7 linked regions of the Homo sapiens genome follow. The protein of the gene in region 1 purifies or fractionates together with the protein of each later gene. This does not show direct contact. Each region holds a gene or a part of one and is shown in the gene's direction. Other genes may lie near its edges. The genes, in order: C1orf54, CEMIP2, TGFB1, CHSY3, MAN2A2, SCARB1 and CTSF.

What was found.
Region 2: the proteins of C1orf54 (region 1) and CEMIP2 purify together in Homo sapiens (co-immunoprecipitation; 2 studies listed by BioGRID and IntAct, with this or other methods). This does not show direct contact.
Region 3: the proteins of C1orf54 (region 1) and TGFB1 purify together in Homo sapiens (co-immunoprecipitation; 2 studies listed by BioGRID and IntAct, with this or other methods). This does not show direct contact.
Region 4: the proteins of C1orf54 (region 1) and CHSY3 purify together in Homo sapiens (co-immunoprecipitation; 2 studies listed by BioGRID and IntAct, with this or other methods). This does not show direct contact.
Region 5: the proteins of C1orf54 (region 1) and MAN2A2 purify together in Homo sapiens (co-immunoprecipitation; 2 studies listed by BioGRID and IntAct, with this or other methods). This does not show direct contact.
Region 6: the proteins of C1orf54 (region 1) and SCARB1 purify together in Homo sapiens (co-immunoprecipitation; 2 studies listed by BioGRID and IntAct, with this or other methods). This does not show direct contact.
Region 7: the proteins of C1orf54 (region 1) and CTSF purify together in Homo sapiens (co-immunoprecipitation; 2 studies listed by BioGRID and IntAct, with this or other methods). This does not show direct contact.

Annotation. Positions count from the first base shown.
Region 1 is NC_000001.11:150,275,790-150,278,602, forward strand, and holds part of C1orf54 (uncharacterized protein C1orf54 isoform b precursor), read left to right. Parts: coding exon 1-10; intron 11-732; coding exon 733-843; intron 844-2,813.
Region 2 is NC_000009.12:71,748,014-71,751,513, reverse strand, and holds part of CEMIP2 (cell surface hyaluronidase CEMIP2), read left to right. Parts: intron 1-1,128; 5' UTR 1,129-1,140; coding exon 1,141-1,471; intron 1,472-3,500. UniProt on the Homo sapiens protein: Cell surface hyaluronidase that mediates the initial cleavage of extracellular high-molecular-weight hyaluronan into intermediate-size hyaluronan of approximately 10-5 kDa fragments.
Region 3 is NC_000019.10:41,340,423-41,343,922, reverse strand, and holds part of TGFB1 (transforming growth factor beta-1 proprotein preproprotein), read left to right. Parts: intron 1-1,675; coding exon 1,676-1,753; intron 1,754-1,889; coding exon of another isoform or gene 1,890-1,892; coding exon 1,893-2,040; intron 2,041-3,500. UniProt on the Homo sapiens protein: Transforming growth factor beta-1 proprotein: Precursor of the Latency-associated peptide (LAP) and Transforming growth factor beta-1 (TGF-beta-1) chains, which constitute the regulatory and active subunit of TGF-beta-1, respectively.
Region 4 is NC_000005.10:129,903,240-129,907,264, forward strand, and holds the start of CHSY3 (chondroitin sulfate synthase 3), read left to right. Parts: upstream 1-1,225; 5' UTR 1,226-1,590; coding exon 1,591-2,392; intron 2,393-2,602; exon of another isoform or gene 2,603-2,688; intron 2,689-4,025. UniProt on the Homo sapiens protein: Has both beta-1,3-glucuronic acid and beta-1,4-N-acetylgalactosamine transferase activity. Transfers glucuronic acid (GlcUA) from UDP-GlcUA and N-acetylgalactosamine (GalNAc) from UDP-GalNAc to the non-reducing end of the elongating chondroitin polymer.
Region 5 is NC_000015.10:90,909,802-90,913,301, forward strand, and holds part of MAN2A2 (alpha-mannosidase 2x), read left to right. Parts: intron 1-288; coding exon 289-491; intron 492-699; coding exon 700-882; intron 883-1,045; coding exon 1,046-1,160; intron 1,161-1,369; coding exon 1,370-1,437; intron 1,438-1,583; coding exon 1,584-1,749; intron 1,750-2,241; coding exon 2,242-2,478; intron 2,479-2,715; coding exon of another isoform or gene 2,716-2,740; coding exon 2,741-2,863; intron 2,864-3,075; coding exon 3,076-3,190; intron 3,191-3,471; coding exon 3,472-3,500.
Region 6 is NC_000012.12:124,811,865-124,815,364, reverse strand, and holds part of SCARB1 (scavenger receptor class B member 1), read left to right. Parts: intron 1-250; coding exon 251-392; intron 393-959; coding exon 960-1,163; intron 1,164-3,399; coding exon 3,400-3,495; intron 3,496-3,500. UniProt on the Homo sapiens protein: Receptor for different ligands such as phospholipids, cholesterol ester, lipoproteins, phosphatidylserine and apoptotic cells. Receptor for HDL, mediating selective uptake of cholesteryl ether and HDL-dependent cholesterol efflux.
Region 7 is NC_000011.10:66,562,964-66,565,606, reverse strand, and holds the end of CTSF (cathepsin F precursor), read left to right. Parts: intron 1-600; coding exon 601-720; intron 721-800; coding exon 801-865; intron 866-958; coding exon 959-1,049; intron 1,050-1,460; coding exon 1,461-1,519; intron 1,520-1,599; coding exon 1,600-1,674; 3' UTR 1,675-2,143; downstream 2,144-2,643. Other genes in the region: ACTN3 (alpha-actinin-3), read right to left, coding at 2,414-2,572. UniProt on the Homo sapiens protein: Thiol protease which is believed to participate in intracellular degradation and turnover of proteins. Has also been implicated in tumor invasion and metastasis.

The DNA of each region.
Region 1 (2,813 bases):
GGACAGGCTGGTGAGTGAACTCTACATCTAAAAGGGTTAGGATAAGTAACAATTAAAAAGAAACTGGCCGGGCGCAGTGGCTCATGCCTATAATCCCAGCACTTTGGGAGGCCAAGGCGAGTGGATCATTTGAGGTCAAGAGTTTGAGACCAGCCTGGCCAAAATGGTGAAACCCCGTCTCTACTAAAAATACAAAAACATTAGTTGGACATGGTAGCATATGCCTATAATCCCAGCTACTCAGAAGGCTGAGGTAGGAGAATCACTTGAATCCGGGAGATGGAGGACGCAGTGAGCCAAGATCGTTCCACTGCACTCCAGCCTGGGTGACAGATCCAGACTTCATCTACAAAAAAAAAAGAAAAAAGAAAAGAAAAGAAACTGGGCAATGTTGAAATGTATCTGATTAACAAGAATAAAAATGAGTTTGATGAGGAGAAACTAAGTAGTAGGCCCAAAACAGATTTGTTAACCTATCTGGGGAGGAGAAAAAAGCCAGAACTTTATAAATTGTCCTCAGTAAGTTTGCTAAGACACTGAGGAGGGGCATCAAGGGACTTTTGAATGAGATGGGTACAAATCTATGCAAGCATAGGGTAGGGGGGAATCCCTGAGCTTAAGTCTTTGGGCTGGGTGGAGGTGGTGAAGGGGAGAACTTTAAGTAGAGAATCTATGAAGATGTTGGATGGAAAAACTGATAACTCTGTGTTTCCCAAATCCTACTGAGGGTAGAACAGGTTGGATAAGGACATAACAGAAGCAATAGAGACTACCATTAGTCTTGAAACAGCACGTGCAGACCATCCGAAGCCTGTAACTGTGAAACCAGTAACAACGGAACCTGTGAGTTGATTGGGGATTGGGGGCTGGGGGGAGACAGGACATCCCTAGTGACGTGGAATACATAGAGGGCTGGAATACCAGGCTTTGGTGGATGGGAGAACCAAATAATTAGTACTTCATTGCAGGTATTCATCTCAACTTGGCCATGTTTCACTAAGATTTAATACTAACCCTGTTTACAGAACACTGGGAAGATATGGTACAGTTAAATTTCAGTTCAGTAGTATTCAATAGGTATGTAATCTATGCCTAAGGCTGCTAAGGTAACTGATGCTGATAAAAAAGAAATCTATGTTACTGTCCTCAAGGATTTATAAAATTCAAGTTTACGAAACACTTAGAACAAAATGAAAAGGTATGTTATGATGTTAAATTATATATAAATTTGAAAGCAGAAGATACTGGCAGTGCTTTAGCCAATGTAAGAAGAGAGATTAGTACAGGCTAGAGTTGTCTGAAAAGCTTTCAAGAGGCATTTGTGCTTGAGATACACCCTGAAGAATAGATGAGCTTTTGATTGGTGGGTAGTTATGGAAGGACAGAAGCAATTAGGAGGAAGAATAGTTATTCCAAGAGTGAAAGAGGCCAGGTATGGCGGCTTATGCCTGTAATCCCAGCACTTTGGGGAGGCCAAGGTGGTCGGATCACTTGAGGTCAGCAGTTCAAGGCTAGTTCAATGGCCAACATGGTGGAAACCCCATCTCTACTAAAAATACAAAAGTTAGCCAGGCGTGGTGGTGCGTGCCTGTAATCCCAGCTACTTGGGAAGCTGAGGCATGAGAATCACTTGAACCCGGGAGGCAGAGGTTGCAGTGAGCCGAGATCACGCCACTCTACTCCAGCCTGGGCGACAGAGTGAGACTCTATACTAAAAAAAAAAAAAAAAAAAAAAAAAGAGTGAAAGAGCTGCACAGGAGGGGGGAATAGAACAAGCATAATATGTTTAGCAAATAGGGTATGATTGAAGGAGAGGGTATATGGAAGGGAACAGTGGGAATTAAGAAAAATATAAAATTTACAAGGCTCCTAATACTTGCTTAGTAATTTCACATGTGGCAACATAGGGGCAAATTTCAGAGAGTCTCAGGTGTCAGGCTGAAGTCTGGACTCATAATCAACAAGGAGCCTAGTAAGTTCTTCATTATGGTAAAAACACGATGAAAAGTGATATTTTAGAAAAACCGGCCAGGTGTGGTGGCTCACGACTGTAATCTCAGCACTTTGGGAGGCTGAAGTGAGCTGATCACCTGAAGTCGGGAGTTCGAGACCAGCCTGACCAACATGGAGAAACCCTGTCTATAGTAAAAATACAGAATTAGCTGGGTGTGGTGGCACATGCCTGTAATCCCAGCTACCTGGGAGGCTGAGGCAGGAGAATCGCTTGAACCTGGGAGGCGGAGGTTGCAGTGAGCCGAAATCGCGCTATTGCACTCCAGCCTGGGAAACAAGAGTGAAACTCCATCTCAAAAAAAGAAAAAGAAAAACCACTCTTCAGGTTGTATGCAGGATGTAAATAATTTAGTGGAAAGCAACTCATGAGATTTGCGTTGTTCCAGAAACAATCTGTACTCTGGCATTATGAATGGAGAGGAGAAAAATAAATATTATGAAGAAAATACCTTGCTTGAGTGATAATTTTATATGAAGTATAAATGAGGAGTGAGTTAAAATAACTCATGGGTTTTAAACATGGATGTCTGGGAAAATGGTTGACCAAAGTGGGAACTATGGGAGGCCAGAGTGGTTTAGGACAGAAGTTATTAATTTGGTAATGGCCAAGCTGAGTTTATGGTGACAGCCCTATGAGGGTGTCCTAAAGGTCACTGAACTAGATCAGGGCTAGAGTTCTAAGTGCAAAGTCACAGATATGAAAGTAAATGAGCTCAACAGAGCCAGTACACACAAGCTCAGAAGGCCAGTGACTGTGCCTGTAGTGAGTGGGAGGAAGAGAAATTAATGAATGGAATGGA
Region 2 (3,500 bases), on another chromosome or scaffold:
TTCATGAGAATCACTTGGGGAGCATTTAAAAGCTGCAAATACTTAGATCCCAGGGACAGCAATCCTGATTGAATTGTTTAGCCGTGGTGCCCTGAGCATTCACCTTAGCGGGTGATTACACTATGCAGCCAGGGTTGAGAAGGAGTGACATTAGAACACAAGTAATGAAGGTGATTGTCAACATGGTTTATTAGATCAGGGATGTAAGCTGACTTGATATTTTCAAGAAGTCATTATGATGGTTACCAGGGGCTGGGAAAAATGGAGAGTTACTTAATGGATATAGAGTTTTTGTTTGGGATGATGAAAAAGTTCTGAAAATGGATAGTGGTGATGGTCACACAACTTTGTGAATGTACGTAATGCCATTGAATTGTACGCTTAACATAGTTAAAATGTAAGTTTATGGTATATTTAACACAATTTAAAAAGTACTTTAAAAAAACCATTTATGATTCATACATTCCAGCTGGATACTGGGGCTCACGCCTGTAATCCCAGCACTTTGCAAGGCTGAGGTGGAAGAATCACTTGAGCTCCGGAGTTTGAGACCAGCCTAGGCAATATAGCAGGATCCCATCTCTACAAAAAATTTAAAAATTAGCCAATCATCGTGGGATGTACCTGTAGTCCTGGCTACCCGGGAGGCTCAGGCAGGAGGATTGCTTGAGCCCAGGAGTGCGAGACTGTAGTGATCTATGATCATGCCACTGCACTTCAGTCTGGGCAACAGAGTGAGACCCTGTCTCTAAAAAATAGAAATTAAAGGCGAGTTGCGGTGGCTCACACCTGTAATCCCAGCACTTTGGGAGGCTGAGGTGGGTGGATCACCTGAGGTTGGGAGTTCGAGACCAGCCTAACCTACATGGAGAAACATTGTCTCTACTTAAAAAAAAAAAAAAAAATTAGCTGGGCGTGGTGGTGCATGCCTCTAATCCCAGCTACTCGGGAGGCTGAGGCAGGAGAATCACTTGAACCTGGGAGGCAGAGGTGGCGGTGAGCCGAGATCATGCCATTGCACTCCAGTGTGGGCAACAAGAGTGAAACTCCATCTCATAAATAAATAAATAAAAGAAATTAAAAAAGAATTTACACATACTGAAGCTTAATTTTTTTTTCTTTTCACAGTAACAGTGTATCATGTATGCCACTGATTCCAGGGGACACTCCCCTGCTTTCCTCCAACCTCAGAATGGAAATAGTCGTCACCCATCTGGCTATGTTCCAGGGAAGGTTGTCCCATTGCGTCCCCCTCCTCCTCCAAAGAGTCAAGCTTCAGCCAAATTTACCTCCATCAGACGAGAAGACCGGGCAACCTTCGCATTCTCACCTGAAGAACAGCAAGCCCAGAGAGAAAGTCAAAAGCAAAAGAGACACAAAAATACTTTCATTTGTTTTGCTATTACTAGTTTCTCATTTTTTATTGCACTTGCAATCATTTTAGGAATATCCTCAAAATATGCTCCAGATGGTAAGTGTGTGTATATGCACATAGAACATATTCTAGAAGACAAAAGAGGAGGAAATAGTAGAATACTTAAAAAAAAATTTATCTTAAGTTGGCCCTAGCTAACTAATATGTAGTTAGGTAATACGAGGTGTCACTTCTTATGAATGAGAGCAATTGTTCAATAATCTGTTGGAAATGATTAAATGGTTGCTCTTCCTGTCCATTGTGCCACTTTGTTGCAGCACTCAGGGAGGTCTTGGAGTACCTCTTTTGGAAATGCTTTGAGGGCCTTCACTAAATTCTTATGGTAGGTATGATTTTTGGACTGCTGCAATTTTTTTTTTCTTTTTTTCTTTTTTTGAGGCAGTCTTGCTCTGTTGTCCTGGCTGGAGTGCAGTGGTGTGTTCTTGGCTCACTGTAACCTCCGCCCCCTGGGTTCAAATGATTCTCATGCCTCAGCCTCCTGAGTAGCTGGGACTACAGGCAAGTGCCACCACATCTGGCTAATTTTTGTATTTTTAGTAGAGACAGGGTTTCACCATGTTGGCCAGGCTGGTCTCGAACTCCTGACCTCAGGTGATCTGCCTGTCTTGGCCTCCCAAAGTGCTGGGATTACAGGTGTGAGCCACCATGCCCGGCCGCAAGTTTTTTTTTTTTTAGTCATACGTATAGTGAACTATATTAGATTTTTTTGTTTAAGTAAGTGACTAAAAATAATAATATTTGTGTTTGTGGCTTGAAATGGGCTTGGGAAGCAGTTCCAAAGGAAAAGTTTCAAATATTTTTGAGTAACAATATATATCCTGGAAGGGAAGCATCCTTTAGGATATATAAGTTCTGACACCTTTGTCTAAAAATCAGTCATTACTTCATAGTTAAATATTATGCAGGGAGATTTTAATTTCTTAAATGGTATTTTCTTTTCAAGTTAATGATATATCAATATTTTGAAAAGTTTTGAAGAAGATGGTTGCAAGTCAGCCTTATTGGAATACCAACAAAGAATTGCCTCATAAAAGAATACCATCCATCTGTCTAAAATCAAAGGACTCGGGGCTGTGAAGAGAGAAGACTCTAACAGCCTGGACTGGGTACCATATTTGTCTACAACAGATTTTTGTCAAGTTAAATGCTTCCTTAAGTGGCTGTAACAGTTCAGAGGCATTTTACTACTTATAAGACTTACAAATACTTTATTATTTAGTTTTCTTGGGTGCTTTCAAGGGATTTTTAAAATTTTAAGGTTCTGGGAGAGGTAGTGCTAGTACTTCTAAGAAAATAAACCTCAAATGAGAGAGACATGCACATTAATATCCTTATGGACCAAACAAGTAGACCACATTATGAACTTATAACATTGATTTCCATTGCATGCGGTATGACTTCCTCTCTCCTTTTCCCAGCAGAATAACCAAGTTCTCTGTGCTGATTCATAATAACCAAGTTCACTGTGCTGATTCATACTTCCCAACTCTTCTGCAGTAAAGGGATGCTAGACCAGTGGGAAATCAGAGCTGAAGTCTATGGCTTTGATTGGTGTTTTCATATTCCATCTAAAACAGGGCATTGCTGATATGGTTCCTTGAACCAACATTCTTTAGTTTCACATTTTGGCAGTGTAAAGTGCAGATCATCAGTGGAAAGATCTGGTATGCTGAAATATTTCAGGGTCAGCTTGACTGTGGTTATTGCTGTTACATAACTTTGATAATATACTCACTGCTCTTCAAGTGGGTAGCTGGGAAGGTGGGGTTGGCTGAGCTACTTTTCAGTGCTTTGTACAGACTACACATTTTCTCATTAAGTGCATTTTACTGGAAGGAAACAGACTGGAATTTTTGGTGATGGTTCTAATGAACCATGCTCTCCTGGGAAATAATTAAAAACAATTAAGAGAAATTATATAATCATTGAAGTAGGCTCCAGATCTCAAAAGACTGGATTTCCTTCTTTATAGCTGGGTACAGTGCTTGTTATAAAACTATGGAGAATTTCAGCTAGATGTTGTATGGGAAGAGGGAGGTAGAAAAGTTAAGGAATCCTCATTATT
Region 3 (3,500 bases), on another chromosome or scaffold:
AACTCATTTGATCTGTCCAGGAGATGATTGTCTCTGTCTGGTTTCTGGCAGGGCCCATGGTGCCCCTATCTCTCTCCCTCACCTCCCTCTCATTTATGCTTTTATTCAATAATTGCCCACAGGTTCCTGCTGTGTGCCTGGCCATGTGCTGGGTGGTGTGGGGGACATAGTGATAACCAAGACAGCCCTCAGTTCTGCCCTCATGGGGCCCACAGTCACTTCTGGACACCTAAGAGATCTTGTCAAGGCCCCACCAGGCAGGAATGACCTAGAATGATCAAGAATGGGATGGGGAGGCACCAGCAGGGAGGACAAGGCTGGGACAGGGAGGCATGCAGGATGGGGGAACGCCCTAAGTGCTGTTGGGAGCCCAGAGAAGGCACCTGGACCCATCTGGGGAGTCTAGGAGGGCTTGCTGGGTGAGGGTGATTGTGTGGAGACTCACAGGATAAATAGTAGTTTGGCCACATGAAAAAAAAGGGATTAGGGGGCCTGGCATGGTGGCTCACGCCTGTAATCCCAGCACTTTGAGAGGCCGAGGTGGGTGGATCACCTGAGATCGGGAGTTCGAGACCAGCCTGACCAACATGGAGAAACCCCGTCTCTACTAAAAATACATAATTAGCTCGGCGTGGTGATGCATGCCTGTAATCCCAGCTACTCGGGAGGCTGAGGCAGGAGAATTGCTTGAACCCAGGAGGTGGAGGTTTCAGTGAGCCAAGATCGTGCCATTGCACTCCAGCCTGGGCAACAACAGTGAAACTCCGTCTCAAAAAAAAAAAAGAAAAGAAAAAGAAAAAATAGGGATTAGGGAGCAGGTGGGCACTGGGAGGAGTGTCCTGGGCTGTTCGACAAAGGCCTAGAAGGAGCTCATCTGTCTTGGTCAATGCTGAGTCCCAAGCACACAGCACAGGCTTCGGCACATTGTAGGAGCCTAGAAAACATCATTCACTCATTCATTCAAGAGATTGATGCTGGCTGGGTGCAGTGGCTCATGCCTGTAATCCCAGCACTTCGGGAGGCCAGGGCAGGAGGATTGCTTGAGCCCAGCCTGGGCAACATAGTGAGACCTCTGTCTCTACAGAGAATTTAAAAAGTAGCCGTGTAGGCCGGATGCAGTGGCTCAAGCCTGTAATCCCAGCACTTTGGGATGCCAAGGCAGGCGGATCACCTGAGGTCAGGAGTTTGAGACCAGCCTGGCCAGCATGGTGAAACCCCATCTCTACTAAAAATACAAAAAATTAGCCGGGTGTGGTGGCGCATGCCTGTTATCCCAGCTACTTGGGAGGCTGAGGCAGGAGAATCGTTTGAACCTGGGAGGTGGAGGTTGCAGTGAGCTGATATCACGCCACTGAACTCCAGCCTGGGCAACAGAGCCAGACTCCATCTCAAAAAAAAAAAAAAAATTAGCCATGCGTGGTAGCACGCGCCTGTGGTCCCAGCTACTCGGGAGGCTGAGATGGGAGGATTGCTTGGGCCTTGGAGATTGAGGCTGCGAGACCTTGTCTCAAAAAAAAAAAAAAAAAAAAAAAGAGAGAGCTGCAGTGAGAGGGCAGAGTGGGGTGGGTGGGGGAGGCAGGAAGGAAGCCCCTGGGGTTTGCTCCTTCCTTCCTCTTCCTCCAGGGGCTGGGTGAGCTGCACTCTCAGACTGGCTTCCCTCTCGCCACTCCTACAGGGGAAATTGAGGGCTTTCGCCTTAGCGCCCACTGCTCCTGTGACAGCAGGGATAACACACTGCAAGTGGACATCAACGGTGAGGCCTGCTTCCCCGGCCATGCCCAGTTGTGACGTGTGTGCGTGTGTGTGTTCCCATCTGCCCCACGCCCCACTTATCTATCCCTCTGAGAGTGTGTGTGTATGTCCCCTATCCCCTGACTCCCACACCAAAGCAGGGTTCACTACCGGCCGCCGAGGTGACCTGGCCACCATTCATGGCATGAACCGGCCTTTCCTGCTTCTCATGGCCACCCCGCTGGAGAGGGCCCAGCATCTGCAAAGCTCCCGGCACCGCCGAGCCCTGGACACCAACTATTGCTTCAGGTGAGCCTTGTAGCCTGGATGGAGGCCTTCCAGGCTGGGGGCATGACTGCCATCTGCTGACCAGGTGCTCCAGGTTGGACACCTGGCTGCTGCTGTGCTTGGGCTGAGCATCTGTCTCCTTTAGCTTGGAGGGCTCAGGGGATGAGGTCTGGGTGTAAGAACCAGGAGTCTTGTGCCAGGTGCGGTGGCTCACGCCTGTAATCCCAACACTTTGGGAGGCTGAGGCAGGTGGATCACCTGAAGTGAGGAGTTTGAGACCTGTCTGGCCAACATGGTGAAACCCGTCTCTACTAAAAATCCAAAAATTAGCCAGGCGTGGTGGGCGCCTATAATCCCAGCCACAAAAAACAAAAAAAGAACTGGGAGTCTTGTAATGTTGGGATCAGGTTCCTTTTTTTTTTTTTTTTTTTTTTTTTGAGACAGAGTCTCGCTCTGTCACCTGGGCTGGAGTGCAGTGGCGCTATCTTGATTCACTGCAAGCTCCACCTCCCGGGTTCACACGATTCTCCTGTCTCAGCCTCCCGAGTAGCTAGGACTACAGGCACGTGCCACCACGCCCAGCTAATTTTTTTGTATTTTTAGTAGAGATGGGGTTTCACTGTGTTAGCCAGGATGGTCTCCATCTCCTGACCTCGTGATACACCCACCTCAGCCTCCCAAAGTGCTGGGATTACAGGCGTGAGCCAACGCGCCCGGCCTAATTTTTTGTATCTTTAGTAGAGACTGGGTTTCACCATGTTAGCCAGGATGGTCTTGATCTCCTGACCTCGTGATCCGCCTGCCTCAGCCTCCCGAAGTGCTGGGATTACAGGTGTGAGCCACCACGCCCAGCCTTGCTTTCTTGCTGGAGTGTTGGAATCACAGAATGTTAGAAAGTTGAACCCTGTGATTGTTGGAATTCAAAGTTGGAAGGTCACCATCTTGAATCCCTAAATTGTTGGCAGGTTGAGGTTCTAGAATGCTGGGATTCTAGAATGCTAGAATTTGGTGTTAATTACTGAAATGGAAAATGTCGGACTCAAGGAAAGCTGAAACATTGGAATCCTAGAATTTGGGGATTCAAAATGGGAAGATGGCCCATGTGGAATTCCTGCACCACTGGCCAATTGTGGATACCAGTGTTGGCAGATTGGAGTCCTTGAATATTGGGCTCACAGTGGTAGAATTCTGTTTTGAAATATTCACATCCACAAATGTTGGAGTTGGAGAAAGCAGAATATTGGTATCTCAGCATGTTGGAACTCAGTGTTGGAATGTTAGAATATTAGAATGCTGGGATTTTATTAATAGAAAGTGGCAGCAGGCTGGGCGCGGTGGCTCACGCCTATAATTCCAGCACTTTGGGAGGCTGAGGTGGGCGGATCCCTGAGGTCTGGAGTTCAAGACCAGCCTGGCCAACATGGTGAAACCCCATCTCTATTAAAAATACAAAAATTAGCCAGGTGTGGTGGCTGGCACCT
Region 4 (4,025 bases), on another chromosome or scaffold:
AAGGCACAATGATTTTGGCCAATACAGCTTAACTTTTTTTGAGATTCTGTTGCTGGACAATTTTCCTCCCTCATTGGAGAGGTAAAATTTTCCTGTCTTTGCCTTAGAAAATAAAACGGTTCATAGGCAAGAATAAAAATCATATCCTCCATTTTATTTTTTGATTAAGTTCACTTATTTTGTGGGGGTAAGAATTTCTTTCGTTTGGATCTTCAGGGTATTGGCCCTGTGAATGTGTGCCCATTTCTCCACTATTTGCCAGTCCCACTGAGCCAATCTTCTACCAAGACTGAAAATAGACCATAGTTCTCATTTCTTGAACAGATATCATCAGGAGAGCCGAGGGGGAGACCATTAGGCAGCCCCACATTTTCCAACTCAACAGGTGGAGGACATGGGATTTTTACGTTCTTTGGGGATTGAACCCCCACACACCACCAACTCCCTTAGCCTTTCAGGATAAGTATTTCCAATCCCTCAGAGATTTTCTTAGGAGAGACCCTAACGACAATGGTGCTTCTGTGAAGGACTGAGGAGAGCTGGTGGACGATGCAGGTAGGAGGGAAGTTAGGCTGGGAGGAGAGGTGCTGGGATGGGACGTTTGGTTTCCTGACAAGTGACCGACTAGAGAGAGAAGGCGCGGAGTGGCAGCGGTAAGAACAACGTGGAAAGGACGGAAAACGCGAAGAGTGGCGCCCTGGCGGACCTGGGGCGGGGCAGAGTGGTAAGGGTCACGCCAGGACGTACCCGGCTGTGGGCCGGGGGAGGAGAGCACGGTGGGACAGCAACGAACTTGCTGGGGGCTCCCGGACCCGAGCTCCGCCGATGAGGTCAGCGGAGCCTAGGCGCCGGGAGGAGGCCAGTAGAGCCCCCAGACACGAGTGTCGGGAGGCCAGCGGAGGGGCGGGACGGGACGGGAAATGGGACGAAGAGCAAGAGCTGGGGGAGGAGGGAAGAGGGGGCGTCGGCGCTGCAAGCCGGAGGCGGCCCGACAGGGATCGTTTCCTTCCGGAGAGGAGGCCGGCTCTGGACTGAGGCGCGGACGGGGGGCGTCCAAGGGCGGGTGACGGGGAAATACCGCGGCCCGCGCTTCTCTCCGGCTGGCAGCGGTGCCGCCTGCGGCTCCTCCTCCGGGCCAGCTCGGAGCCCGGCGGCGGGGGGAGCGGGAGGCGGGAGTGAGGGCGGGGGCTCGGGAAGGAGGGAGGAGGGAGGGCCCAGGCGCGCCACTGACAGGGTGGCAGCCTAGGAGCGGACGCGTTGCCGCCGCCGCTGCTCCTCCTCCTCCTCCTGCAGCTCCTCCAGCTGCCGCTGCTGCCGCCGCTGCCGCCACCGCCGCCGCCGGGAGAAGTTTCACTCCCGACCCTTGCTCGGAGCCCCGGCCCAGAGCTGAGCGGGAGCCCGGCAGGCAGCTGCAGCCCGCGGCAGTCGAGGCGTCCGCGGCGCTTCGACCTCCAGCCGGTGTCGGCGCCTAGGCGGCCGGCTGCGGCCGCGGCTGGGGGCGCAAAGGCGGAGGAGGGGCGGGTGTGAGCCGGGGAAACCGCGTGCCGCGCCGCGACAGCCCAGCGAGCGTCCGCGCCCGGGACAGCCGCGATGGCTGTGCGCTCTCGCCGCCCGTGGATGAGCGTGGCATTAGGGCTGGTGCTGGGCTTCACCGCCGCGTCCTGGCTCATCGCCCCCAGGGTGGCGGAGCTGAGCGAGAGGAAGAGACGTGGCTCCAGCCTCTGCTCCTACTACGGTCGCTCTGCTGCTGGCCCCCGCGCCGGCGCTCAGCAGCCGCTCCCCCAGCCCCAGTCCCGACCACGGCAGGAGCAGTCGCCGCCCCCCGCGCGCCAGGATCTCCAGGGGCCACCGCTGCCCGAGGCAGCACCCGGGATCACCAGTTTTCGAAGCAGCCCCTGGCAGCAGCCACCTCCGCTGCAGCAGCGGCGGCGAGGACGCGAGCCTGAGGGCGCGACGGGGCTTCCCGGTGCTCCAGCGGCCGAGGGGGAGCCCGAGGAGGAGGACGGGGGCGCGGCTGGGCAGCGGAGAGACGGCCGGCCGGGGAGTAGCCACAACGGCAGCGGGGACGGGGGCGCTGCCGCCCCGAGCGCCCGACCCCGGGACTTCCTGTACGTGGGGGTGATGACCGCGCAGAAGTACCTGGGCAGCCGCGCGCTGGCCGCGCAGCGGACCTGGGCGCGTTTCATCCCGGGCCGCGTGGAGTTCTTTTCCAGCCAGCAGCCCCCCAACGCCGGCCAGCCCCCGCCACCCCTGCCTGTCATCGCGCTACCGGGTGTGGACGACTCCTATCCTCCCCAGAAAAAGTCCTTCATGATGATCAAGTACATGCACGACCACTACCTGGACAAGTATGAGTGGTTCATGCGCGCCGACGACGATGTCTACATCAAAGGTGACCTCCCTGCGCCGGCTTTCCAGCCTGCCAGTCTCCCCGACTCCTTTCTCTGTAACCGGTCCTAGCCCCTGCCCAGCCCCTCCGCTGCTTCTCTGCCAGCACGTGCTTCGGGCTCCCACAGGCCCTGGCCCGCCCTCCCCACCCCTTGCATCCGCCCACAATTCGTAGCCCGTTCCTCGTCTTCTGCAATCTGGACCCTCCTCACACCTGCCTGGCTTTATTCGCCTTCCTCACTTGCTGTTTTCGGTGCCGCCTCGCGCTTGTCCCTTAGTCTTTACCTCGTCGGAGAGGTTAGAAAAGGAACCTTAGAGCTAAACCAAAGGCCATTCCCACTCTGCCCTCCTCTGAAAGCCCCTGCTGATGGTAGTTTCCCCAATCGGTCCAGAGGGGCGTGGTCTTCAGGAAGGGAAGACGGAGGATGCTAGCTACAACTAGTCTGGAGATCCAGTGTTCTGGCTTTGGATCTTGCTCTTTTGTTTAAACTGGATCTAGCGCACTTTTGGAACTGCTCAGATTGAGGAATCGTCTTCGCTGTCCCGGACCCTTTCCTATGTGTTCCCTTCCCTTTGGCTCAACTCTCCACATACTGGGAGTCCTTGGCCATCCCCACCGTGCCAGCGCGCTGCTCCTTCCAGCCGCTACAGTTCAGCACCAAGCCGTCCCCCATCCCCCCGCCACACCTCAATAAAACCCTGAGAGGATGGGCATGTTGTAAGGAATTGGTGGTGGGGGAAAAGAGGAAAGCACCCGCTAATAAGCCAGACCCCTGGGAACAGCAGACTGTACTAGCACACACTAGTATTGGTTCCTTTCCAGTGCATTTTGTTGGCCGCGGTGATAAGCAGAGGCTGGAAGTCCTTCCCAGAACCACAGGCAGCCACAGCAAGAAAAAACTTTTTTTGTCAGTTTAAAAGAGGCGCGGTCTTTTTCCCGGAATGTGGGCGGCTCTGGACAGAGAATTTCTAAACTCAGCGGATCAAAGTTCTTTAGGTCAGAGAAGTGAATCTTTCCAGTCCAGCCAGTTGCTGAGATGGGGAGCAACGCAAGGGAAGCAGCAGGGTTGTACCGAATGAGGTTTCTCTGTGTTTTCCACATTTCCTTGCTTCCCGGTCAAAGGGGGGCAGCCCTTCCTTATTTTATGCCTTTCTACTCGTAGCCTCATTGCTTCCTCCTGATTCGGATAGTACTTTTCACATAATGCAAGAAAAACGAACAAAAAGCCAAACAATAAACCCAAACTGTTGCATTTTGGCACAAGGAATTAGTGTAATCATAATAACTAGAGATTTCTTGGCTTTGGATTGGAAGGAGGGAAGTCACTCTAGAGCAGGTTGGAATAGAAAATACTGATAATTGGATATAAAAATAAAGAATGGTCTCATTACATTTTTAACAGTGGTATTTAGGATTGACTCAAAGAAGAAAGCTTCCTCTACTTTAAGTTCCTTGCCTTGGATATCTCAAAATTACAAAGGTTTCCTGGCAGAAGTTTGCCACATTTTGCAGGGAATTTATAAAATGCATTAACAGCACCTACTTCTTTCATTTGTTTTAATACTTTGAAAGATTGTCCTTCAGAACATTAAAATGACATATTATTTCAATTTCTATTAAGAATGAAATGTGTTTT
Region 5 (3,500 bases), on another chromosome or scaffold:
ACTGTGTTAGCCAGGGTGGTCTCGATCTCCTGACTTCGTGATCCACTCGCCTCGGCCTCCCAAAGTGCTGGGATTACAGGCGTGAGCCACCGCGCCCAGCCGAAGGTGCCCCTTTTATGTCAGAATTAATTCCCAGGCTCCCCTACTTCTGTTAAGTCTAGAATGGCAGGATGTACAGTTCCTGCTTCTGAGGCCAGAGCCCCTGCCTCACCCCCAACTGCAGCACTGTGGCCACAATTTGCAGGAGGCTCTAGAACTGATGGGAGTGGGTTTTTGGGGTTCCCACAGGCCCAGTTTGGCACTCTTTCTGACTATTTTGATGCCCTGTACAAGAGGACAGGGGTGGAGCCAGGGGCCCGGCCTCCAGGGTTTCCTGTGCTGAGCGGGGATTTCTTCTCCTATGCGGACCGGGAGGATCATTACTGGACAGGCTATTACACTTCCCGGCCCTTCTACAAGAGCTTAGACCGAGTCCTGGAAGCCCACCTGCGGTGAGACCCTGTCCCCGCTTCCAGGCTGGAGGGGGAGAGTCAGCCTTTGGGGTTTAAGGAGGGGCTGGATTGGCTCAGAAGGGAATAGATAGGCCCAGAGGCCAGGGCAGGTAGAGGAGGGGTGGGAAGGAAGGAGGCTGCACTGGCAGAGTGTGGGTGGGCCCTGGCTAGTGGTGCAGGCTGGCAGCTAACTTCTCTCTCTGGGCAGGGGGGCAGAGGTTCTGTACAGCCTGGCTGCAGCTCACGCTCGCCGCTCTGGTCTGGCTGGCCGGTACCCACTGTCTGATTTCACCCTCCTGACGGAAGCTCGGCGCACATTGGGGCTCTTCCAGCATCACGATGCCATCACTGGCACGGCCAAGGAGGCTGTGGTGGTGGACTATGGGGTCAGGTGGGAGCCTTCTCTTTTCCCTTGTAAGCTCCCCTGCTCACTGTCCCAAAGAAAGGACATTGGGTGGTCAGGGGGTAGGCCGGCCTAGGGCTTGTCCTGCTGACAAGGCAGACAGCTTCCCTATGGTCATCTTCTCTCCTTCCCTCTCCTGCGCCACCCACAGGCTTCTGCGCTCCCTTGTCAACCTGAAGCAGGTCATCATTCATGCAGCCCACTATCTGGTGCTGGGGGACAAGGAGACCTACCACTTTGACCCTGAGGCGCCCTTCCTCCAAGTGGTGAGCCCCTCCTGGGTCTGCATGGGGACCCTCTGGTGTGTGCAGGTCCCATCCCAAGAGCTGCTGGATGGGGGTGCCGCTTCTCTTTTTCCTTCCCCATCCGGATGAGTTCTGTGCCCAGTGCAGCCGCTGGTCCACACCTGGGACAGGTGGGGTGGGAGGAGGCTGAGCCCATGATGGTTCTTCCCTTCCGGCTCACTGAATTCCAGGATGACACTCGCTTAAGTCACGACGCCCTCCCAGAGCGCACGGTGATCCAGCTGGATTCCTCGCCCAGGTAACCTGGACTACGCCATGTGCAGAGAGGCAGAGCCATTCCCTGGCTCTCAGGCCCCTCTGCCCCAGCATGTGCTGAACCAGTGCAGGGCGCTTGCCCTGGTCGGAAGCAGCAGCCTCCTGGGTCAGCCCACCTTCTACGCACAGGTTTGTGGTCCTATTCAACCCACTGGAACAGGAGCGATTCAGCATGGTGTCCCTGCTGGTCAACTCTCCCCGCGTGCGTGTCCTTTCGGAGGAGGGTCAGCCCCTGGCCGTGCAGATCAGCGCACACTGGAGCTCTGCCACCGAGGCGGTCCCTGACGTCTACCAGGTGAGGTGTGGGCTTGTCAGGTGGGCCTGGCCCTCTGCCCGTCGTGGGCCCCTCCCCGCCCGGCGACGCCAGCCTCCCACCCTCCTGCTTGTGGCCCTGCTACTCTCCAGGCTGAGGACAAGTGTCCTGGGGAGGGGGTTGTCCAGAAGACAGGCACTCTTGGGATTTGAGCGTGTCCTTGAAAAGAAGGGGAAGGTTGGTATGGTAATAGTAATGGTAAAAATAGCAGTTATAATGCCCCATCATTCAGTCATTCAATGTTTATCGAAAGCTTAATGTGTTGTTACCGCTTCATACTTTTTCAAATATCACTTGAGAATCATAAAGTCTGATGAGGAAGAAAGGGCAAATCAGATCACCTCCACTTTGGAGGAGGGGCAGAGGCCCAGCGGGTGCAGGGGCTTGCTCAAGCCCTCTGTTAGTAAGCGGATGCCTCAGCACCCCTGTGGCGAAAGCCGTGCCCCCACTTCCTCACCCCTCCTGTGCCCACAGGTGTCTGTGCCTGTCCGCCTGCCAGCCCTGGGCCTGGGCGTGCTGCAGCTACAGCTGGGCCTGGATGGGCACCGCACGCTGCCCTCCTCTGTGCGCATCTACCTGCACGGCCGGCAGCTGTCCGTCAGCAGGCACGAAGCGTTTCCTCTCCGTGTCATTGACTCTGGCACCAGCGACTTCGCCCTCAGCAACCGCTACATGCAGGTCTGGTTCTCAGGCCTTACTGGGCTCCTCAAGGTAAAAGGCCAGGGTGGTGGGGAAGGGCCAGGGGCCAGAGTAGGGCGTGTGTGGTGGTGGCACTGTGCAGAGCGGCCTCCCGGCCCTGTGAGCATTCTGCCACCTGACCCACAGTGGACCGGGGCCTGGGCCATCTCAGCTCCAGCCTGACAGCATGGGGAAGCAGGGCACGGCTCCTTGGGGAAGCTATTCCGTGTCCTCCCAGGAGGCAGGCCTGACATGCTGGTGTGGGGCCAGGGGTCAGGGCTGTGTTTTTTGGCAGAGCATCCGAAGGGTGGATGAGGAGCACGAGCAGCAGGTGGACATGCAGGTCCTTGTCTATGGCACCCGTACGTCCAAAGACAAGAGTGGAGCCTACCTCTTCCTGCCCGATGGCGAGGCCAAGGTATCCTAAAGATGCCTTGAACAACCTGGCAGGGAGGGCAGGAGGGGGCACAGGCCTTCCCACAGGTTTATTGCTGCCTGCCAGGGGCCTTGTCTTTCCTGTTCAGCCCAGGGGTGTCTGGGAATAGGTGCTCTCTTGCCCAGCCCTGGGCTGGCACCTTCCTGCTTTGCCCTCTGTGCTGTAGTTTCAACAGCAATCTGCTCTTTCTCTAGCCCTACGTCCCCAAGGAGCCCCCCGTGCTGCGTGTCACTGAAGGCCCTTTCTTCTCAGAGGTGGTTGCGTACTATGAGCACATTCACCAGGCGGTCCGGCTTTACAATCTGCCAGGTGAGCCCTGCATATGAGGAAGGGTCTGGAAGGAGGTGTGGGCTCCACAACTGTGGCGTATTCTTCCTTCTGCTGCTTCTCTGTTCATACCTCTGTTCCGTATCATTTGAGACAGGGATGCTCCATTCTCTTGGAGAAAAAGTCATCCAGAAATGCCCTGGGGATTTCTTGGGAGGTTGGACAGAGCCTCTCCCCAGCTCGGCTCTGATCCCCCAGCCCAGCCTCTTAGCTGTGCTTCAGCCTCACACCTGTCCATGCCCCCACTTTGTTCCTGTACCCAGGGGTGGAGGGGCTGTCTCTGGACATATCA
Region 6 (3,500 bases), on another chromosome or scaffold:
AGAGACGATGGCCGTGTTGGGTGGGGGAGAGCAGAACGAGGCCGGGTGGGCGGCGACACCATGTCCTGCAGTGGGCAGGCGGCGGGAGGGACAGACTTGGCGAAGGGGCCGAGCTCAGCTTTGGCTGTGGGGCCGGAGGTGTGCACAGACGTCCAGGGCCCCTGGTTCCCAGGCAGGCATTGCAGGCGAGTAGAAGGGAAACGTCCCATGCAGCGGGGCGGGGCGTCTGACCCACTGGCTTCCCCCACAGGGAGTTCAGGCACAAAAGCAACATCACCTTCAACAACAACGACACCGTGTCCTTCCTCGAGTACCGCACCTTCCAGTTCCAGCCCTCCAAGTCCCACGGCTCGGAGAGCGACTACATCGTCATGCCCAACATCCTGGTCTTGGTGAGGCTGCCCTGTGGCCCACGCCGCCTCGCACCCTGACCTCGTCCCCTGTCTCTCCTCCCGCCTGCCCCTTGTGCAGAGAGCAGTCCCTGAGGTGGTCGGAGCGTGGGGACTCACGCCTGGTGGGTGGCTTTCGGCCCTGTGCTGTCTCCACCACCCCCAGTGGGTTCTGAGTTTCCCAGGTGGGTCCACCTGTCTTGGTTTGGAAGTCCTGGCCAAAGTACTTTTTTTTCCCTTTTCAATTTACATTTCTGAGATCTCCAAAAGGGGCTGTCTTGTTGAGGGCTGAGCCACAGGCCCGCCTCTGGGACTGGGGCTGGAGTTCACTTAGCCTGAGTCCAGTGGGGTGCAAGGGGGAGAAGGGGTTCTCGGGAGCACATGTGGCCTTGGCACTGGAGGAGCAGAGGGTGGTTCTGGTGTCCCAGATGCCCCACGTGGCCACTCCAGGGGCCTCCTGCACCCCAGCATTTCCCTTCATGGGCTCTTTGCTGTGAGGCCCAGCTGGGGCCAAGGGAGGATGGGCCAGCCACGTCCAGCCTCTGACACTAGTGTCCCTTCGCCTTGCAGGGTGCGGCGGTGATGATGGAGAATAAGCCCATGACCCTGAAGCTCATCATGACCTTGGCATTCACCACCCTCGGCGAACGTGCCTTCATGAACCGCACTGTGGGTGAGATCATGTGGGGCTACAAGGACCCCCTTGTGAATCTCATCAACAAGTACTTTCCAGGCATGTTCCCCTTCAAGGACAAGTTCGGATTATTTGCTGAGGTACGTGTGGCCTGGTGAGAAGCCAAAGATTCAGGCCTGTGTCCTGTCTTCCCCTCACACAGCCTGGACACTGGTCACCAGCTTGCTTTGTAGCTGGCTGGGGATCTAGTGGCTGTGGGTTGTAAGTGACTGAGAACCTGACTCAAACCGGCTTGAGTGAAATGGGGAATGTTGGGGCTCATAGAACTGAAAATGCTAGGGTTGGATTCAGGTACAGCTTGATCCAGGCTCAAATGATGTGACTGGGCCTTAGCTTAGCAAATTGGAGGCTTTGCTGGAGGAAGGGGGCATGGCTGCTGGGGAGTAATATCACAAGCTGACTCTTAATCTTGACTCTTGGCAACCTGGTAGGGTCACTGACTGGGCTTCGGAGCCAACATCTCGTCCATGGAGGGTCTGACCCTGACCTTGGCTCCCTCACCGCAGGTTTCACTGAGTCCTTGGGACTGCTCCAGCCTCAGCCATCTCTTTGGTCTCTGCTGATCAGGGTAGAGTGCTGGGGGGGATATCGTGGTGCTGCGTGTGATAGATACTCAGTACGTTTTTGTCAAGGGTGACGGGCTCCTGTCGTGTGGGTAAATGAGCAAGTTTGGGCTAAGTGGCATGATGCTGTAAAGGCATCTTGTAAATCCTGAAGTGCTTTGCAAATGAAAGTTATTACAAAGTCCCTAGTTTAGTATAATCTACGTTTGACTGCATATAATGAAAACCTCACAAGAAAAGTCTAGCGGTAGGCTGTTCAGTGTTGGTGTGGTGGCTTCATGGTCTTAAGTGATCTGGAAGCCTTCTACTACTGTGCTCTGCCATCCTTGGCATGTGGTTTTCATCCTCAAGATAACCTCATTGTCCAAGTTGGCTGCTAGAGTGTCAGCAATCACATCACATTCCAGGCAGCACAGCAAGAAGGAAAAAATGGTGGGGCTTTGGGGAGCAGATGGAGGAACTGGGGGTAAAACAGCGTGTTCCAGTTTCCTCCCTCTTAGGGAGGAAGAAAACCAATGTCCACTTCCTTTCTATTGGCCAGAACTGAGTCACATGGCCACACCTAGCTCCAGGGGAAGCTGGAAAGGTAGCCTTTTAGCTGGGTGTGCTGATGCTCTGAGTATGGTTTGGGTTTTGTATGAAAGAGTAAGGAGAGATTGGGCTTTGGGTAGTAACTGGCAGTTTCTGATGCTCTCCGTCCATTATAATGATCATTTAAGTATCCTATTGGGTGAGCATTTATTAATAATAACAATAATAATGAAAATAAAGACTATCATTTTGAGCTCTTACTGTGTCCGGTGCACTGTACCTGGCCGTTTTTGCACATGAGTCCCTTTAATGCTCCCCTTTGTAGTGGCTCTGGTTATTCTTGGCTCCACATGGGCACGTGACAGACACACCCGGGATGCTGGGCTGGGGCCTTGTGCTGGGTCCTGCTCTGGAGGTCTGTGATGGGTGCAGTCACTCAGCCGGGCAACCTTGGAGCTCCTCAGTGTGCTCCACCCTGCAAAGCACTTCTAGATATTTCCTTCAGTCACTCATACCACTTTGTGCTTTGCATGTCTTTGGGATTAGAAACCAGCTTCTGGGAAATGCTCTCGGAGCACCAAAGCCTGGGCCCCACTATCAAGAACCTCGATGGGTTAGGACAGGCCAGGTTTTGCTGCTGTGACAAGCAGCCCCGGAATCTCCATGGCTTAGAACAACCAAGACTTATTCCTTTGCTTGCACTCCACGTCCAGTGTGGGTGACTGGGGCACCCGCGCTTGTGGTGGTCACTTGGGGATCCAGGCTGAGGGAGGCTCTGTCTTGACACATACCTCCTTGGCTGCTATAGCAGCGGCAGAGAGCCCGGTGAAAGGCGTGTGCACAGTCCTTAAAGCATCCCCCCAAGTGACATGCCACTTCTCCTTTTTCATTGCTCAGGGAGCTGACCTGGCCATGCTTTATTTTATGCTGGAGTAGGGTGTGGTGGGGGTGATCTGCCATTTACCTGGGAGGAAAGCCAGACTCTCCTGGAGTTAGGAAGGGAGGGTGGAACACTGCAGCCACAGAACCCGGGACCATTCCTCCTAGAAAGCTCCCAAGCCTCCTCTCGGTCCCCAGACACTGGGCATTTGGCAGTGAACCAGATGCTGGGGGCCCTGTCCTTCTGGTGGAGGGGGAGGAGGGCTCAGCCCAGAATGTTCAGACCAGGCCGGCTCAATGGCAGGCCTAAGCCTTACGATGCTGTTCCCTGCTGTGTCTGTAGCTCAACAACTCCGACTCTGGGCTCTTCACGGTGTTCACGGGGGTCCAGAACATCAGCAGGATCCACCTCGTGGACAAGTGGAACGGGCTGAGCAAGGTGAG
Region 7 (2,643 bases), on another chromosome or scaffold:
ATAATGGGGGGGAGACATGAGCATGAGAGTTACACAGAACTGGGTCCAGGTCTTAATGCTGACCCAGCCAGGCGTGGTGGCTCATGCCTGTAATTCCAACACTTTGGGAGGCCAACTTGGGAAGATCACTTAAGGCCAGAAGTTCAGGACCAGGTTGGGCAACATAGCAAGACCCCATCTCTACAAAAAATTAAAGACATTAGCCAGGCATGGTGGCTTGCATCTGTAGTCTCAGCTACTTGGGGGGCTGAGGCAGGAGGATCGCTTGAGCCCAGGAGGTTGAGGCTGTAGTGAGGCATGTTTGTGCCACTGTACTCCAGCCTGGGTGAAAGACTGCTGGGATGAGCTCTTGGTGAGGAGTCAGAAGTTGGAGTTGAGTTCTGTCTCTGCCACTTTTCTTGCTGGCTACTGGTCCCTCCTCCCCATCTCTCCCAGCCTCAGATGTGTCATTTCTAGAATGAAGACATTCTTCAGAGGGGATGGCCTGTGGCCTGGGGTGGACGAGGAATGTGAAACCTCGCGTAGAGGGCTTAGTTCATTTCTGGCTGTGAATGGCAAATGGGAGCCTGCCCTTCTCTACTCACCCCCACCGTTCCCCAGGAGGGCTGGAGACAGAGGATGACTACAGCTACCAGGGTCACATGCAGTCCTGCAACTTCTCAGCAGAGAAGGCCAAGGTCTACATCAATGACTCCGTGGAGCTGAGCCAGAACGAGCAGAGTGAGTGAGGGGCAGGGTGAGGTGAGGTCAGGTGGGGCCGGGGCCTGGGTGCCTACTGATGCCACCCCTTCCCATCTCAGAGCTGGCAGCCTGGCTGGCCAAGAGAGGCCCAATCTCCGTGGCCATCAATGCCTTTGGCATGCAGGTGAGGCCCTAGCCCCACTGCCCCTGCCCCATCTCTTGTTGACCTCCCCGACCTCTTCTTGGAGTCGATCCCCTACTCCTTCTCCACCTCCAGTTTTACCGCCACGGGATCTCCCGCCCTCTCCGGCCCCTCTGCAGCCCTTGGCTCATTGACCATGCGGTGTTGCTTGTGGGCTACGGCAACCGTGAGTTCCGCTGCCTGTCCTGCATCCAGCCAGGCCACAGGCAGGGGTGGGATCACAGCATCTCAGGTCCTCTAGAGGGGAAATAGGGGGAATGCCTAGGAACCCTGTCCTTACCCACTGCCTGGGCCATGACCAGCTGGGCATCATCTGTCCTCTCTATGGCAGGGAAGCTGAGCTGTGGGAGGGTAAATATTGATGGCCTAATAACCTGCAATAGGCGGGTGGGTGCGTGCTTCCTCCCTGCCCCAGGGCTTCTCCCTGAGGCTGGTAGGTGGGCCCCTCGCTTTCTGCTCTTTTCCTAGTCCCTGTCACACAGTAGGCCCAGTGCAAGTATTTGAAGGGTGCAAAGTGATTAAGGCTCTGCCTGGAGAATTAAGGACCCTGATCCTTGCGCTCTGCACTGCACCCCAGGCTCTGACGTTCCCTTTTGGGCCATCAAGAACAGCTGGGGCACTGACTGGGGTGAGAAGGTGAGTCTTGCTGGCTTGGCCCCTGGCCCTCCAGCCGCCATCCTACCCTGGTGCCCTCACCAGCTCCCCCTCTCCCCCAGGGTTACTACTACTTGCATCGTGGGTCCGGGGCCTGTGGCGTGAACACCATGGCCAGCTCGGCGGTGGTGGACTGAAGAGGGGCCCCCAGCTCGGGACCTGGTGCTGATCAGAGTGGCTGCTGCCCCAGCCTGACATGTGTCCAGGCCCCTCCCCGGGAGGTACAGCTGGCAGAGGGAAAGGCACTGGGTACCTCAGGGTGAGCAGAGGGCACTGGGCTGGGGCACAGCCCCTGCTTCCCTGCACCCCATTCCCACCCTGAAGTTCTGCACCTGCACCTTTGTTGAATTGTGGTAGCTTAGGAGGATGTCGGGGTGAAGGGTGGTATCTTGGCAGTTGAAGCTGGGGCAAGAACTCTGGGCTTGGGTAATGAGCAGGAAGAAAATTTTCTGATCTTAAGCCCAGCTCTGTTCTGCCCCCGCTTTCCTCTGTTTGATACTATAAATTTTCTGGTTCCCTTGGATTTAGGGATAGTGTCCCTCTCCATGTCCAGGAAACTTGTAACCACCCTTTTCTAACAGCAATAAAGAGGTGTCCTTGTCCCGAGTGTGGTATAAATGCTCAGTCCCCGGGGGTGAGGAGAGATGGCAGGGACTCCTGGCGGGTCAAGGTGGGATAGCTGGTCCTGCCCAGGAGCCTGAGGGGCCAGCTTCTGCTTCAGGAACTAAAAGGAGATGGGGAGAGACCCAGAGAGGGATCTTTATTCAGAAGCACTTGGCTGGCTTTTCTCTTAGGCCCTTGCTCCGAGGGACGGATGGGATCAGCCACAGGGTGCATCCTCTCTCCATCTTGCATAGAGAACCTCAGTGGTTGGGGTCAAAGGTCGCTCTCCCCATAGAGGGCACTGGAGAAGGCCACGTAGTCCAGGGCTCCAGCCGGGGCCCCGGATCCCTTGTAGGGCACCATACGGCGGATGCAGTACTCGGCCTGCTTGGCAGGGAGCTCGCGCCGCAGCTCCTCGGGGGTGATGTAGTTCTGGGGAGAAGAGGCGTTGAGGACCCACAGGTCCCGTGCCCTGCCCTAGCCCACCAGCCCCTCCACCGCCT